2 separate regions of the Homo sapiens genome follow, and region 1 is linked to region 2. Evidence: fine-mapped expression QTL. A gene starts in region 2. The other region holds a variant in brackets. All regions are shown on one strand. Distances are between the middles of the regions. Region 1 holds the start of LOC105370790 (a long non-coding RNA gene). Region 2 holds the start of NUSAP1 (nucleolar and spindle associated protein 1).

The links. PIP is the estimated chance that this variant, and not a neighbour inherited with it, causes the effect.
Region 1: its variant is fine-mapped to the expression of NUSAP1 in whole blood (TOPMed, PIP 0.91).

The regions. Positions count from the first base shown.
Region 1 is chr15:41,481,128-41,489,462 of GRCh38, forward strand. RTF1 (RTF1 homolog, Paf1/RNA polymerase II complex component) reads left to right here. Exons shown (of 18, transcript NM_015138.5): 18 at 1-2,436. LOC105370790 (a long non-coding RNA gene) reads right to left here and starts at 5,242. Exons shown (of 3, transcript XR_932169.3): 1 at 5,103-5,242; 2 at 3,368-3,552. RefSeq lists an enhancer at 2,547-2,596. The variant C/A (reference allele first, on the strand shown) is at 3,458.
Region 2 is chr15:41,328,789-41,337,123 of GRCh38, forward strand. It overlaps NUSAP1 (nucleolar and spindle associated protein 1), which reads left to right and starts at 4,093. Exons shown (of 11, transcript NM_016359.5): 1 at 4,093-4,262. The coding sequence starts at 4,170. OIP5 (Opa interacting protein 5) reads right to left here and starts at 3,803. Exons shown (of 5, transcript NM_007280.2): 1 at 3,452-3,803; 2 at 3,127-3,193. The coding sequence starts at 3,773. RefSeq lists enhancers at 3,557-3,816, 7,951-8,335.

The DNA of each region.
Region 1 (8,335 bases), 150 kb after region 2:
GGGAGCGGGGATTGGGCACCTGCGATCCTCTTTCCTCTCTTCATCTTTCTCTTCTGCCCTTCTTTTTGGAAGAAGGGGTTTCAAAACCAGTTTAGTTTCCAAAAAGTGTACATTTGTGGGGGGGGGGGGTCTAATTTGAGAGCGAGAGTGTGTATGTGTGTGTGTGTAAGTGTGTGGATTTTTTTATCATTTTTTTAAAATGCAGTACTCTTTGTATCAGTCTGTCATGGGTCTATAGCTGTTTCAGATTTTTTTCAGCTGTACTTGAGCATCTGAAACTGCAAGAAAGAAACTCATTAAATGTGATTCTTCTTACTAAACAGGCCTGACTGCTGTAGCTGTGTAACTTCCCCATTCCCACCTACTCTTCCCATCCTTTCCCAACTTTGGAGAAAACTCCCCAGTTTAGCCCCCTGACCTGCAGGCTGTGTCCTGGCAGGTGTGGGAGGGAAGCCCATGGCCAGGTACCAGGGAGGGCAGTGAATGTCTTGCTCTTCCCATGGGTACAGCCCACAGCTTCTTGGCTGAACGTAGAACTTCTTTTTCTCACCCAGTATACCAGCCTCTTCCTGGTGATTCTGTTTTGCTGCTTTGGCAAGAACTACATTTTGTTTTTAAGAGAAATTTCTGAATATGAATGTGGAGAGCAAACACAAAAAGATTTAGGTTACGCCGGGTGCAGTAGCTCACGCCTGTAATCCCAGCACTTTGGGAGGCCTAGGCGGGTGGATCACCTGAGGTCAGGAGTTCAAGACCAATCTGACTAACACGGTGAAACCCCATCTCTACTAAAACTACAAAACTTAGCCGGGCATGGTGGTGCGTGCCTGTAATCCCAGCTACTCGGGGGGCTGAGACAGGAGAATCCCTTGAACCTGGGAGGCGGAGGTTGTGGTGAGCCAAGATCGTGCCACTGCACTCCAGTCTGGGTGACAGAGTGAGACTCCGCCTCAAAAAGATTTAGGTTGCAAATGTTTCAAGCATGTGCAGTTTTGTGTGTGTGTATACATATATATGGTCAGCATATATATTGTGCAGCTAGGGCGAAGCCAGCAGAGGTGTGTGTATGTCTTTATGAAATGTTTGAAAAGAGATAAACTGACTGCTTGATAATCACTCTCAGGTGTAAAGCTCCAAGTGTAAATAAAAGTGGCATTTAACAAATCTTTCAGAACAAAGTACAGCTGACTATATATACCAAGAGCTAAGCTAAAGGAACAGCTGAGAGCTCCGATCTCCACGAGAGACTAATCTAAAAGCTCTGCTTTGTACTTCCTCACCCTGCTTTCGTACAAGGAAGGGGGACGATGGGAAATCATGGACTTGTAAGTTGTATTTAAACATAAAAATGAACTTGGTAACTTCTGGGTTTAGTAGAGCCTCAGTGTCGCTTTAACTTAGTTTACTTTTTTTTTATTTTTAAAGCAGCAATGGATGGTTTTAAAGGAGTATTATGATTGTAAAATTGCTAAATATGACTGTAACACAGCTTTGTGGTAGCTGTGACACAGTTCACTTGGGCAAAGGAGTGGTGATGGACTCGTTAAAATCATATATACTTGAATAGTCCATTGACCGAAACTCTTTATAGACTATTGTGTAAATGTGGAATCACAGACTGTTAACATTGCCTGGACTTCAGCAGAGTCCTGGAGCTGCTGGGACCTCTCCTATCATGATGAACTTGGACTTTTTTTTTTGATTTCTGGTTTTAAAAAACATAAAATTATAGAATCCAGATAATTCGCTGGAGTCATTCTGATCCACCATGTAGATCTGTATTTAGTATCATTTGGATTTGGAGAAGTGTTGATTACATTATGGCTGTGTAATAAAATTTTTATTAAAACTGCATCACACTGTAGCCACTTTGCCACCACCTCCCCACATGTAGCCGCTGAAACCCCCACGAGATGCCAATGCACACAGCAGGGAGAAAAGCCAACCAAAGAAGACCGAAGGGTATCTTTCCACCCGAGTAGCCTCTGTAGTGATTGGGACCAAGACTAAGGACTTGTCTCCAATCTCAGCTGAGGCAGTGCCTCTGAACCAAGATCTTGGTCAGGCATTAAGACACTGGCTTTGTCCTACCAACTAGGATTTCTTGGTGGTTCACACTATTTCTTGTGCTGGGGAATTCCCTCATTGGGCCCCTCCTCCCTCCACAGTGTGGTTTCAGTGTTGAAGGGTGCAGCACCCAAGGTTGTTTTTATGCATTTTTTCAGTTCCTTCCAAGAAGCAAAAAGGCCAGTGTCCATCTGCCTAGTTCATAATGTTTATAGGTCTGTTTGTCTGTCTTGCTTCTGGCAGGTGTAGGGAAAGTCTACTGCCTGCCACTCCCTTCAAAAAGAATGTTTTTGCTTTTGTGAAGTCCTGACTTGCCACTCAAACTGTACCAATATTGTAAATAAATGTTATGCCATTTTAACAAAGGGATCAGATTGAGTCTAAGGATTGCATCCTGAGTGGCAACTCCTAAAGCCATGTTTTGAAAGTCCAAGAGAACCTCTCTTGCTCCTTTTCCTTCTTCTCTTAGCCCTGTGCCCACAAAAGTGAAAGTGGCCATCGTCAACTCTTTAGCAGCCTGGTTCCCCGGAAGCCTCTCTGGTAGGGTAGTTGCCTAGACCCAAGGAAACCTCCAGTTGTCCTGGTTTACTTCCTGTCTTGGTAAGAGACCAATAAGTTTTAACAGAGCTAAGTAGACCCCTGATGTACTGCCTAACCCTAGTGAGAATCTGGGCCTTTCAACCTTTTTTTTTTTAGCTGGGGTCTCTGCTGTCTAGGCTGGAGTGCGGTGGTGTAATCACAGCTCACTGCAGCCTCAACCTCCCGGGCTCAAGTGATCCTCCCACCTCACCATTCCAAGTAGCTGGGACTACAGTCATGCACCATCACACCCAGCTAATTTTTAAATTTTCTGTTGAGACGGAATATTGCTATGTTGCCCAGGCTGGTCTTGAACTCCTGGCCTCGAGTGATCCTCCCGCCTCAGCCTCCCAAAATGCTGGGATTGCAGGCATGAGCCACTGTGCTCAGCTCCTTTCAACTTTAAATTGGCCTAGGCACAGTTTCTTTGCTCTTCTTTTTTCTGGCTATCATGAGTTTGAAGGGGGTGCCCAAGGGCCATGAGTGTGGCTATGGAGGAAACACTGATCTTCCTTCATCCACGCACCCCTCATGCTGGGGAGGTCTATAGGCCTCCCCATCCCCAGTGCCTGAGGCTGTGTCTCCAACCTTTCTGAACACATTTTAGCTAGGAAGCAAGAAGATCCTGGATCTTCCACACCCTTTAAGAAGGCAAGGGATGGCAATCACAGTGATAAGAGCCACGTCCAAGACCGCTTCTGGTGGTGGAGAGGTTGCTTACCTGCAAGTGCGTCCAATGAGGTTTTCTCCAACTCCCCAGCACTCCCACTACCTAACTGGTGGGAGCAGTGGGACCTAGAGAGCAGGGGTT[C/A]TGGGCAGATGACAACATAGCTTGCTTATCTTCCAGGATTTGGGTGCTGTGGGGCAGCCACTTGCTACCTATCTCTGAGAATCCAGAAAGAACACCTGGGGTGCAAGTGGAGAGAAGAAGGGTGCTGGGTTGGTCAACTTCATCTCCCTGGCCACGTTTTTCCAGAAGGGAGATCTTCCTTCAGTAACTATAATGTGGCTGTGATCCAGCAGCCTTAGGAAGCCATCAACTCCCAGCTCAAATTTTTTTCACGATTTCCCTGACTTAAGCGGAGACTGCTGAGCTCCCTTGGCAAGGAGGGTGTTAAGGAGCTGAAGGGAATGGCAGTGCTAAGACAGGGCCAAAAGGCATGCCTTCTCTAAGGTTCCACAGGCCAGCCCCAGGGAACATGGAGATACGGCTTTTAGGCACTGGAGCATAGATAGGCATGTCTAGGGCTTCCAGACCATGCTCAGGATACAAGGGAGGGCCAAGAGCCAAAAGGCACCCAGGCTCGGGAAAGGGTTCAGATCCCCGCTCTGCCACTTGCTATTACCTAGGGCTGAGCTACTTAACACCTTTGAGCCACAAGTTTTCCACCTTTCAAAAAACAACCTGTCCCCAGTAGGGGTCCAATAAATGCTGTTGTTAATGAGAGTGAAGCCGCTGGACCCTGGAGGAGAGGAACGGCCCTTGGAGTGGGCTGATGGAGGGCGGAAGCACTGGGCAGTGGGCAGGACCAGAAACTCCACTTGGGCTGGGGTTGGGAGGGGGGGAAGAAACCCTGACTCCAGATGGAGGCTCCCACTGGGAGACCCTGGGCTGGCCTAGGGATGCGTCCAGAGAAAGTGTGCTGCCTCTGGGCCAGGCCCTCGTTGCTGTCATTCCCCACAGGCCAACGCACACCACCTTTACTGACCAGGCTTCTGAAGGCGTTGAAGGCTTGCCACCTTACCACCCTCCAGCTGGCCCCAACTGAGGCCCGACCTACCCACAACCCCCAAGAGTAGTGAATACTCAAAATAGCACCAATAGTACCAAACCAGAAGGTAAGTGTAAAAGAAGCACAACAAAGCTCTGACCCTTCCCATGATGATTACCTTGATACTTCTTCAAAAGATAGATACTTTTGGGCCCTGCACCATGGCTCCTGCCTGTAATCCCAGCACTTTAAAAGGCCGAGGAGGGAGGATCGCTTGGGGCCAGGAGTTCGAGACCAACCTGGTCAACATAGCGAGACTCCATTTCTTTTTTTCTTTTTCTTTCTTTCTTTTTTTTTTTTTTTGAGGTGGAGCCTCGCTCTGTTGCCCAGGCTGGAGTGCAGTGGCGCAATCTCGGCTCACTGCAACTTCCACCTCTCAAGTCCATGCAATTCTACTGCCTCAGCTTCCCAAGTACCTGGGATTACAGGCATGTGCCACCATTCCTGGCCAATTTTCGTATTTTTAGTAGAGGTGAGGTTTTACCATGTTGGCCAGGCTGGTCTTGAACTCCTGACCTTGTGATCCTCCCGCCTCGGCCTCCCAAAGTGCTGGGATTACAGGCGTGAGCCACCACGCCCGGCCTCTATTTTTTTTTTTAATCGAATACTTTTGATTTCTTTTTCTCTTTTAGCCATGGATAGCCCTGCTTCGCTAAGCGCGTGCGATGCAGCACAGCCCTTCACCTGGCAAGCCCGGAAGCCTCAGGTTGACTCCATCAGTTTTGCCGGGAGAGCCCTTCGGCGCTCCCCGCTTGGTGTCTCCACCACCCCCCGCACCGGCCTGGGCGCCACCCTTGTCCGCGCCAACGGTCCCCGCATCCCTGGCCCCGTGCGCCTCCTGCGCCGTTAGCGCCCAGTCCACGCAGCAAGGGAGGAGGCGCGCGGCCGCTGCGTTCCAGGGCGCTCTGCCCTCGTTCCCCACTCCGGGCCCGCAGCCTCAGAGCCAGGGTCCCAGTGGCCCGGGGCCTGCATGCGTCTCCAGCCGTGGATCCCCCGGGGCGCGCGCCTTGGGAGTTGAGCTGGACCCCGGCTCGCACGCGGCCCACGCGGAGACGCATGGGCACTACGGTCCCAGACCCCGGGCCACTGCATGCTCTGTGGACTCGGTCCCCAGGCACACCCGAGGTGTGGAGGTCACGCCTGCAGGCGCAGAGCTCACAGATGGAATTAGGAGGCGCCTCCTAACCCCCGCCTCCCCCCATCACACGCCACCATGACTACACGATGCAGGGACCCCCGACGACGTCCCAGGCATTCCTACAGTGGTCGCCTCCACAAGCTGAGTCCCTGACCTCAGACCCTTCCTGTCCCCTTCACCTCCCCTCGCACTGGGTGAGGTTCTGAGGGTTCTGAGTTCTGGAGAAGAAGGAGGATCACAGGAACACAGGCTCCTGAGTGGGATCGGAAACCTTGTTTCTGAAGTGTAAGGAGAGAATATGTTCTTACTGCGCACACACAGGTGTGGTGACACATTTTGTTCGTTTTAGACAAGAGTGACTCAGACTGTGGAGGGTCAATGAACACTGCTAGATCCTGAGCCCTGCTGAGGTAACCTTGCACCCATCCCTGGATATTCCCACAACGTCTAGTCAATCCATTTATGAGGTCAGAGATTGCCGGGAAGGAAGGGAAACCTAGAGGCCAGGAAAAGAGGCTGGGGCTGGGAGCTGAGGGCTCGCCTGTCAGGTGAAGACCCATTCACGCCTCTTTCCAAGAGAAAGGAGACCCTCACCTCTCTCCCATTCTCACGTGTCCACTGGGCTCTGGCCAGCCCTCCAGCACCCTCTCTGGTAGGCCCTGACGGAGAAGGACATCGAACCCACCAGAGGTGAGGAATGTTTTGGATGCAGGAAGCAGCTGAGAAACCAAAATTCCCAGCGCGCACATTGACAACCTCTTGGAAAGGGAGGGAAGGCAGCCACTGAGCGTCCCAGGGCCTGTTTTCTTCTTGGGCCCTTTCTGGTTTCCTTCCTCGGTAAGACAATGAAAATGATACACTATCACTCCCGGAAACGGGCGGGGGCATCACAGGATCCACGCATTCCTGTGTCCTTTGCACCTAGCACAATAGCAGCTGCTCCATGGAAGTGTGTCTGCTCTGTGAATGCATGAGTGAATCACAGGTATTGTCACAGAATAGTGGGGTCTTAGGGTCATAAAGTCCCTTGGAAGGGCACCAAGTCCCACAGTGCATGTCTGGGAGTTGTTACTAGAATAAGACCTTGCACCACCGGGTCCAGTGGAACATGACAGCCCAACCCCCTCTCACCTCCCCACTCCTACCACACACACACACCCCACACACACTACACACACCACACTCACACACCACACCCACCACACACACACTACACACACTCACACACCACACACACCACACTCACACCCACACCTACCACACACCACACCCACCACACATGCCACACTCACACCACACCCACACCACATACCACACACCACACACACACCACATGCAACACACAACACACACATACCACACGTGCGCCACACATACATGCCATATACACCACAAACATAACCCCCCACACACACCACACATGCCACAATGACACATACCACACACACACTAGAGAGGCTCTGCTCCTGCTGGAGAAGACTTGAAGTCTCCTCAAAGGAACAGATGCTCCATTCAGGAGCACAGGTCAAAGGCTGTGCCTTCCCTTCTCTCCCCAAGGTGAAAGGCCCTGCTTGTCATCTTAGGAAGCAGAAACCAGCACTGTGCCTGGCAGAGGGTGATGAGTGGTGATTTTGCTCCTGCCACTGGTGCTGCCCTGGGGATGGGGTAGAGGTGGGCACAGCTATGAGGCAGGCTGGGGTGAGGACCCCAGAAACCCCTCACATCACACATCCCATTTTCCAGGCCCTTTTTTCTTCCCTAGTTTTGTACCTGAGGGTGATGTTTCTCTAGAAGAGATGCAGCCCTCAGTCATGATAAATCCTGAAATTTTTTTTTTTTTTTTTTTTTTTTGAGACGGGGTCTCTCAATCTGTTGCCCAGGCTGGAGGGCAATGGCTTCATCACGGCTGACTGCAGCCTCAACCTCCCTGGGCTCAGGTGATCCTCCCACCTCTTCCTCCTGAATACCTTGGACCACAGGCATGTGTCACCATGCTTGGCTAATTTTCTTATTTTTTGTAGAGATGGGTTTTCAGCATGTTGCTCAGGCTGGCCTCAAATTCCTAGGTTCAAGTGATCCTCTTGCCTGGGCCACCCAAAGTGCTAGGATTACAGGTACCAGTCACTGGGCCCACCCCTGAAGGTCTTTGATGGGGGTGAAGACTCAGGCACTTCAAGAAGCAGACCTCAGGCCAGGCGCAGTGGCTCATGCCTATAATCCCAGCATTTAGGGAGGCCAAGGTGGGCAGATCACCTGAGGTCAGGAGTTCAAGACCAGCCTGGACAACATGGAGAAATCTCATCTCTATTAAAAATATAAAAATCAGCTGGGCATGGTGGCAGGTGCCTGTAATCCCAGCTACTCAAAAGCTGACACAGGAAATTTCCTGAACCCAGGAAGCAGAGGTTGCAGTGAGCTGAGATCACACCAATGCACTACAGCCTTGGCAACAGAGCGAGACTCTGCCTCAAAAAAAAAAAAGCAGACCTGTAGGGAACAGGAGGATCAACCAACTGAGATACCACAAGAAGATAGGTTCTGGCTGGGCACAGTGGCTCACACCTATAATTCTAGCACTTTGGTAGGCCAAAGCAGGAGGATTGCTTGAGCCCAGGAATTCAAGACCAGCCGGGACAACAGAGTGAGATCCCTGTCTCTACAAAAAATTTAAAAATTGGCTGGGCATGGTGACACATGCCTCTGCCTGTGGTCCCGGCTACTCGAGAGGCTAAGGCAGGAGGATCACTTAGGCCCAGGAAGTTGAGACCGAAGTGAGCTG
Region 2 (8,335 bases):
GTGGCTCACACCTGTAATCCCAGCACTTTGGGAGGCTGAGGCAGGTGGATCACAAGGTCAGAAGTTCGAGACCAGCATGGCCAACATGGTGAAACCCCGTCTCTACTAAAAATATAAAAATACAAAAATTAGCCAGGCATAGTGGCGTGCGCCTGGAATCCCAGCTACTCGGGAGGCTGAGGTAGGAGAATAGCTTGAACCCGGGAGGCGGAGGTTGCAGCGAGCCAAGATCCCGCCACTGTGCTCCAGCCTGGGTCAGAGCAAGACTCCATCTCAAAAAAAAAAAAAAAAAAAAAAAAAAAAGAATAAAAAGAACCCGAGTCTGCTGTCTCTAAAATTTATGCTCTTTTAGCTGCATCATTAATCATCCTCTTAATTCATTCTCTGACCCCATCTAGGTAATGAACCTACACTTAGAAAAAAATCAAGTTGTCTTGAGCTGTGCCATTTCATAACCCTCTTCGTAAGTCCCATATAGCTCATCTTACTCCACAAATACAGAAACACATGGGGCTTTCCCTCTAGTTTTTTTTTTTTTTTTTTTTCAGACGGAGTCTCGATCTGTCGTCCAGGCTGGAGTGTAGTGGTGCGATCTTGGCTCACTGCAACCTCTGCTTCCCAGGTTCAAGCCATTCTCCTGCCTCAGCCTCCCAAGTAGCTGGGACTATAGGCGCTTGCCACCTCGCCCCCCTAATTTTTGTACTTTTAGTAGAGACGTGGTTTCACCATACTGGCCAGGCTGGTCCCGAACTCCCGACCTTGTGATCTGCCTGCCTTGGCCTCCCAAAGTGCTGGGATTATAGGTGTAAGCCACTGCACCTGGCCTTCCTCCAGTTTTTTACAAAGCATCTAAACAAGCATTGTCTAATAGGAATATAATGTGAGTCACATATGTAATTTTAAATTTTCTATTCATTTTGCTTTTTTTTTTGAGGAAGAGTCTCGCTCTGTTGCCCAGGCTGGAGTACAGTGGGATGATCTTGGCTCACTGCAACCCCCGCCTACCAGATTCAAGCAATTCTCTGCCTCAGTCTCCCAAGTAGCTGGGATTACAGGCGCCCGCCACCACGCCCAGCTAATTTTTGTATTTCTAGTAGAAACAGTTTCACTATCTTGGCTAGGCTGGTCTTGAACTCCTGACCTCGTGATCCATCCGCCTTGGCCTCCCAAAGTGCTGGGATTACATGCATCAGCCACGGCGCCTGGCCTAATTTTGCTTTAAAAAATAAAATAAAAACAGGTGAAATTAGTTTTTAAATATTTTATTTAACCCAATATATCAAAAATGTCATTTCACCATGTAATCAATTTTTTTTTTTAAGACAGAGTTTCGCTCTCGTTGCCCAGGCTGGAGTGCAATGGCGTGAACTCGGCTCACCACAACCTCCACCTCCCGGGTTCAAGCGATTCTCCCTCCTCAGCCTCCTGGGATTACAGCCTAGCTGGGATTACAGGCATGTGCCACCATGCCCGGCTAATTTTGTATTTTTAGTAGAGACAGGGTTTCTCCATTTTGGTCAGGCTGGTCTCGAACTCCCGACCTCTGGTGATCTGCCTGTCATGGCCTCCCAAAAGTGCTGGGATTATAGGCGTAAGCCACCGCTCCCAGCCGTAATCAGTATTTTTTTTTTTTTTTTTTTGATACGGAGTCTGTCGCCCAGGCTGGAATGCAGTGGCGCAATCTCGGTCACTGCAAGCTCCGCCTCCCGGGTTCACGCCATTCTCCTGCCTCAGTCTCCTGAGTAGCTGGGACTACAGGCGCCCGCCACTATGCCTGGCTAATTTTTTGTATTTTTAGTAGAGACACGGTTTCACCGTGTTAGTCAGGATGGTCTCGATTTCCTGACCTTGTGATCCGCCCGCCTCGGCCTCCCAAAGTGCTGTGATTACAGGTGTGAGCCACCACGCCCGGCCCGTAATCAGTATTTGTAAATGATTAATTTTTCTGTACTAAGTCTTTGAAATCCAGTGTGTATTCTGTGTTCACAGCATATCTCAATGCAGATTTAATAATATATAATAGCTACATATGACTAGTGATTACAGTATAGGACAGCACGGGTCTAGATTCATTAGCCTCCTCTCCAAGAGCACATTCAGGAACCTTCTGCCTCTGGCCCCAGAATACACCCAATTCCAAGCAGGCAATTGCTCCTTCTTGCTTTGTCCCCTTTGGGTGGGAAGGGGACTCCTATAGCGATAGGGAGTGTCTTTTATTCAGGAAAAAGAAAGGGAGCTGTGGGTCTAACTCCGTTTTTGAAGTTTGTCCAAGCTGCAGAAATCTTCCTGGTTACTGGACAAAGCAACTAAGAATTCCTATATTTTAACCGTAACGTTGAATCAAACTGGTCAGAATGAAATGAATTGTCTCAATGTTAAAGCCAAAACTCAAAATTGAGGAGCCTTGCAATACCAAATTCACTGACTACTTTATTGTCACTTGTAAATCATAGTACAGGCAGGTCGCAAAGTTTACCAGGCAGTATTCAAGTACATAACATTCTAGTTGTGTTTTTCTCCAGTTTCTGGGGTTACTGAAGAATTAGCCCTGGCATAGCTTATTACAAACTAACCATAATCGCAAACTTAAAAGTTCTAATATCAAGCGTGGGCAACATACTAAGGCCTCTACAAAAAATTTAAAAATTAGCCGGGAGTGGTGCTGTGTGCCTGTAGTCCCAGCTACTCCGGAGGGTGAGGTTGGGAGGATAGCTTGAGCCAGGAAGGTAGGGGCTGTAGTGAGCTATGAGCGCACCAGTGCACTCCAGCCTGGGCGAGAGCAAGACCCTGTATCAAAAAGTTCTAATATCTAAAAGGATTGTAGTTTATAGTATGTTATTCTCACTGTAAACCAAAAGGTTATTTTTTTCTTTTGTCCACTACTAGATACATCTTTCTTAGCCTCACTTCACTTGTACAAGCCACCTGGGAGAAGTGGCCCTCAGGAAGATCCTAAAACCAATACACAAATACAACTTTTTCATTTCATTAATACATCAAGTTCATATAAGAGTCAAACAGGTAAAAGCAGCATCCCAAACTGTTTTCTCCTCGTACATGTCAGTTCCACGATCCTCAGTCTCATAAAGTCAGGGACTAGAGACCAATGTAATTATCAATACGTACCTGCCTTTGAGTGAACCTTCAATGCCAACTAGGAAGGGCGCTTCCAAAACGACGTTATTTGTAACTCCTAGGAAGACAAACACGGGTCAGAACCCATACTCTGCGGGCCTTGAAATGGAAAATCTCTCCTCTAGACAGACTCATCCTGGCCGTAAATATCAGGAGACTCCCCGATTCCCTGCCCCATCCCCAGGCCAAGGAGTTATTTGCTTCCAACTTTTCATCCCGTTTTCTTCCCCAGGTGGTTCTCCGCCACCCGGTGGAGAAAGCGGGAACACCCTCTCGGGCTAGCCTCTGCCTTTCCCGAACGCTTCACTGCACTCACTGGAGAAGACCACGGCCCCGAGGGACCGCGACAGGTCCCAGGCGAGGTGCACCGAGTCGGCGAGCACTGCGTGACACTGTGCGCACTGGAACACAGCGCACCTCTCAGGCTGCAGCCAAGACGGCAGCTGCGGGCCGGCGGCTGGCTCCTCAGCCCCCAGCCCTGCGGGGCCGAGCGGCGAGGACCCCTTCACCACCTGCGTATCCCACTCCATGGAGGTCGTAAAAGAAGCTTGGTCAATCGCCCTCTCAGTGCCACCACAAAAGTCCCCCCGGGGCGGCGTTGCACAACGTGAGCGATGCCGCAGCGGCTGAGCCGCCATCTTCCCGCAGCCGGCGCCTTCCTTTCGAATACACGCCAGGCCCCGCCCCAAGCACAGCTCCTGCGTCCTCATTGGACATCATGGGCAATCCAAGCACTGGAGTCCGAGTCCGCGCACTCGTTACCTGAACAGGCGTTACAGGCCCTTTGGCGCCTGCGTATTCGTGAAGTGTGAAAAAAGCGCGCCTCTGTTGGGACGGGAAATCAGCCTTTCTATTGGTCAGGGTTAGAAACCCCGCCTTTGAGGCATTTTCAACCAATGGAAGCGCGGCATTCTTCATTTAAACTGTCTATAAATTTCTGCCTAGTCAAAGTTAAGAGTGGCGCCAGGGATTTGAACCGCGCTGACGAAGTTTGGTGATCCATCTTCCGAGTATCGCCGGGATTTCGAATCGCGATGATCATCCCCTCTCTAGAGGAGCTGGACTCCCTCAAGTACAGTGACCTGCAGAACTTAGCCAAGAGTCTGGGTCTCCGGGCCAACCTGAGGGTACGGCGCTGGCGGTGCGGGTCCCTGGGCGGGCGCGGCGGGAATAGCGGCCTCGGGGAGATGCGGTGCGAAGGGACCGAGAGGGAAGCCCGGGACTGAGGCAGCTCTCCCTGCCCCTCGGGCAGTAGATGTGGTTCACGGTAGTCCCAGTTAGAACTCTGATAAACGGAAGAGGAACTGTAGTTTTCACCTCATTTTGAAGCTGGCTTGTCTGGGTGCTCACATGATAAGCTCTATTCCGAGGGATGGTTTATTGTTTTTTGTTTTGTTTTGTTTTGAAATTACTGTATACCTCTCAGGGCGTCGATTACGAAACTCAGGCCCAGAAAGCACAAGGGGTGTCGTTAATCGTTAGACAATTAAGTAAATAATTGGCTCAGCTTCTGGAAAACCCCAAACAGACTCCAGTGATTTGTAATATTGCCGATAATCTCTTGATACTTTATTGATGGACCTGTCAGAAAAAAAAAATCGACTTTTAGGGGAGCACCTCCTTGGGTAAATTTTTATTGATGACTGTTGGGTTGATGGTCTCTATCAAAACCAGTAAGGTCTTTGACTCCGAGGCTACAAGATGTTTGGAGAGTTGGCCCGGCGCTGTGGCTCACGCCTGTAATCCCAGCACTTTGGGAGGTCGAGGCAGGCGGATCACCTGAGGTCAGGAGTTCGAGACCAGCCTGGCCCTTAAAAAATTAGCCGGGCGTGGTGGCACACGCCTGTGATCCAAGCTTTTTGCCTGTGATCCCAGCTACTTGGGAGGCTGAGGCAGAAGAATCGCTTGAACCTGGGAAGCCGAGGTGGCAGTGAGCCAAGATCGCACCACTGCACTCCAACTTCGGTGACAGAGAGAGACTCAGTCTCAAACAAAACAAAAACAAACAAAAAACCCAAGATGTTAGAAGAAGATTTGGGGATTTAATGTAGGATAGCGGTTTTATATATTTTGTTAATAGTTGAGACTTCCCACATAATACTGCTATATACTCTGGAGGTTTCTCCTGCAGGCTGTGATACTGACAGTGAGTAAATGCTTAAATCAATCGTCACAATTTTTTTTTTATTTGTTTGTTTGTTTGTTTTTTCTTTGAGACGGAGTCTTGCTCTGTCGCCCAGGCTGGAGTGCAGTGGCGCCATCTCGGCTCACCGCAACCTCCGCCTCCTGGGTTCAAGCGATTCTCCTGCCTCAGCCTCCTGAGTAGCTGGGATTACAGGCGCGTGTCACCACGCCTGGCTAATTTTTGTATTTTTAGTAGAGATGGGGTTTCACCATGTTGGTCAGGCTGGTCTCGAACTCCTGACTTCCTGATCCGCCCGCCTCAGCCCCCAAAGTACTGGGATTACAGGCGTGAGCCACCCCACCCGACCTAAATTGTTTAAACAAAATAATCAGGGCCTAAGTGCCTGTTGGGGCTGAATGACCAAAGGGTTTTCCTTGGGGATATTTCTGGGCTGTAGTGGTTAGTGGCTCCTCTATACTTCGTAAACAAAGCCTTAATATCTCAGCCTAAATTCCTTAGGCTTTTTTGCTGCCTAGCTAGAATCTTTTATCCAAGGCTGCATCCCTGAACACTTGGCACTTTTATCTATCTTTGTCCCATTGCTCATTTTGACCCTCTAGCCTCAGATCACCTTCTTTCTCCTTTATCTGCCTGGCTGTGTGTGTGTGTGTGTATTTTTAGTAGAGATAGGGTTTCACCATCTTGCCCAGGCTGGTCTTGAACTCCTGGGCTCAAGCGATCCTCCCGCCACGGCCTCCCGAAGTCCTGGGATTACAGGCGTGACCCACCACGCCTGGCCCATATCAAGTATTTATATGTGAATCAAGTATTTATAGGTGAAATGTTATGATACCTGTAAAATTTGCTGTAAAATACTCAAGGAAAAAGAGAGGGAAACTAGATGAAGTAAGAACAGAAGAATGTTAATAATTACTGAAACTGGAGATAGGTACATGGGGGGATTGCACTATTCTCTCTACTTTTTTAGGTTTGAAATTTTCCATAATAAGATGTTTTAAATTATTAACTTGGTACAACCTAAGAGCTCATTAAGTCAATTGCCTTTTGAAATTTTAGTACATAGCAAAAAAATTAATAAATTGCTCTGAGAAATTATCAAGATTTGATTAAAATGAAACACTACAATTTAAATAAATTTTACTAGCATAAATATACTAGTATAATTATGCTAATAAAATTTATAATTTATACTAGTATATACTATATATATTATTACTAGTATAAATATATAATATATATACTAGTATATATAAATATACTAGGATACTAAATATACTAAATACACTAAAATAAACTAAATATATAAATATACTATATATACTAAATATACTATATTAATATACTATATGTACTAGATAAATATACTATAAATATACTATATAAATATACTAAATTTACATATTTAGTATTTAGTGTGTATTAGTATATATATTTAGTATAGATATACTATATACTAAATATACTATATATACTAATATGTATACTAAATATATTTAATATACTAAATATATTATACTATAAATAAATATAAATACTATACTTAATATACTATATACTAAATATACTATATATAAATATATTAAATATATAAATATACTAAATATAAATATACTAAATATAGTATGTATGTTTAGTATAAATATACTAAATATACTATATTTATACCGGTATAATATACTAAATATGCTATATTTATACCGGTATAAATATACTAATATACTATATTATACTGGTATAAATATACTAAATATACTATATTATACCAGTATAAATATAAATATACTAAATATACTATATTTTTATGTATACTAGTATATTTGTACTAGTAAAATTTATTTAAATTGTAATGTTTTATTTTAATCAAATCTTGATAATTTTACTAGTATGATATTATTAAAAATAAATTTATGGCCGGGCATGGTGGCTTGCACCTGTAATCCCAGCATTTGGGAGGCCAAGGCAGGTGTCTCACCTGAGGTCAGGAGTTTGAGACCAGACTGGCCAGCATGGCAAAACCCCATCTATACTAAAAATACAAAATTTAGCCAGGCGTGGCAGGGGGCACCTGTAATCCCAGCTACTCGGGAGGCTGAGGCAGGAGAGGAGAATTGCTTGAACCCAGGGAGGCAGACGCTGCAGTGAGCCAAGATCACACCATTGCACTCCAGCCTGGGCAACAAGAGCGAAACTCCGTCTAAAAATAATAATAATAATAATAATAATAATAAATATATAGGAGATAATATTCCCTCTTTTGAGAGACTTCTCTTAATGGTATAGCAATTTGAAGGAGCCAGTTATTAATGTTAGTGGGGCGACTGGTCCTGTTGTCACTCATGCCCTCACTTCCTTTCTTGCGAGCTTAAATTACAAACACTGGCACTATTTCCACTTCCTTGCACCTCCCTATACTCACCTGGCAAAACCCAAGCCTGATTAAACCCAGCTATGTGCTTAATCTTTGCCTATACCTCTGCAGCTAACTCTAGTTGGAGAAAACACCTAACTTTGTTGAGCGAACTTATTTTAAATATGCAACGCTAAACCTTAATATGGGCATTTGATCCTCCTCCTTTTGGTTTTTTTTTTTTTTTTTTTTTGAGATAAGGTCTCGCTCTGTTGCCTAGGCTGCAGTGGCACAATCAGGCCTCACTGCAGCCTCAACCTCTCAGGTTCAAGACATCCTCCCACCTCAGCCTCCTAAGTAGCTGGGATTACAGGCACGTGCCACCACACCTGGCCCATTTTCTTCTTAGTCATGAACTTTCCTACTTTTGAGGATAATTACTTTTTATCATCTTGACTCAACTTGGTTCCCTTCCCTCCCTTGATGACTTTACCTCATAGGTCATGGGAAAATAGATGCAATCAACAGAAAACTGCCTTATCGTTCAACCACCAAATCCCCCCCTTTTTTTCCTTTCCTTTTCTTTTTTTTTTTTTTTTTTTTTTTTTGAGACAGGGTCTTGCTCTGTCAGCCAGCCTGGAGTTCTCTGGAGTGCAGTGGCACAATCAGGACTCACTGCAGCCTCAACCTCCCGGGCTCAAGCAATC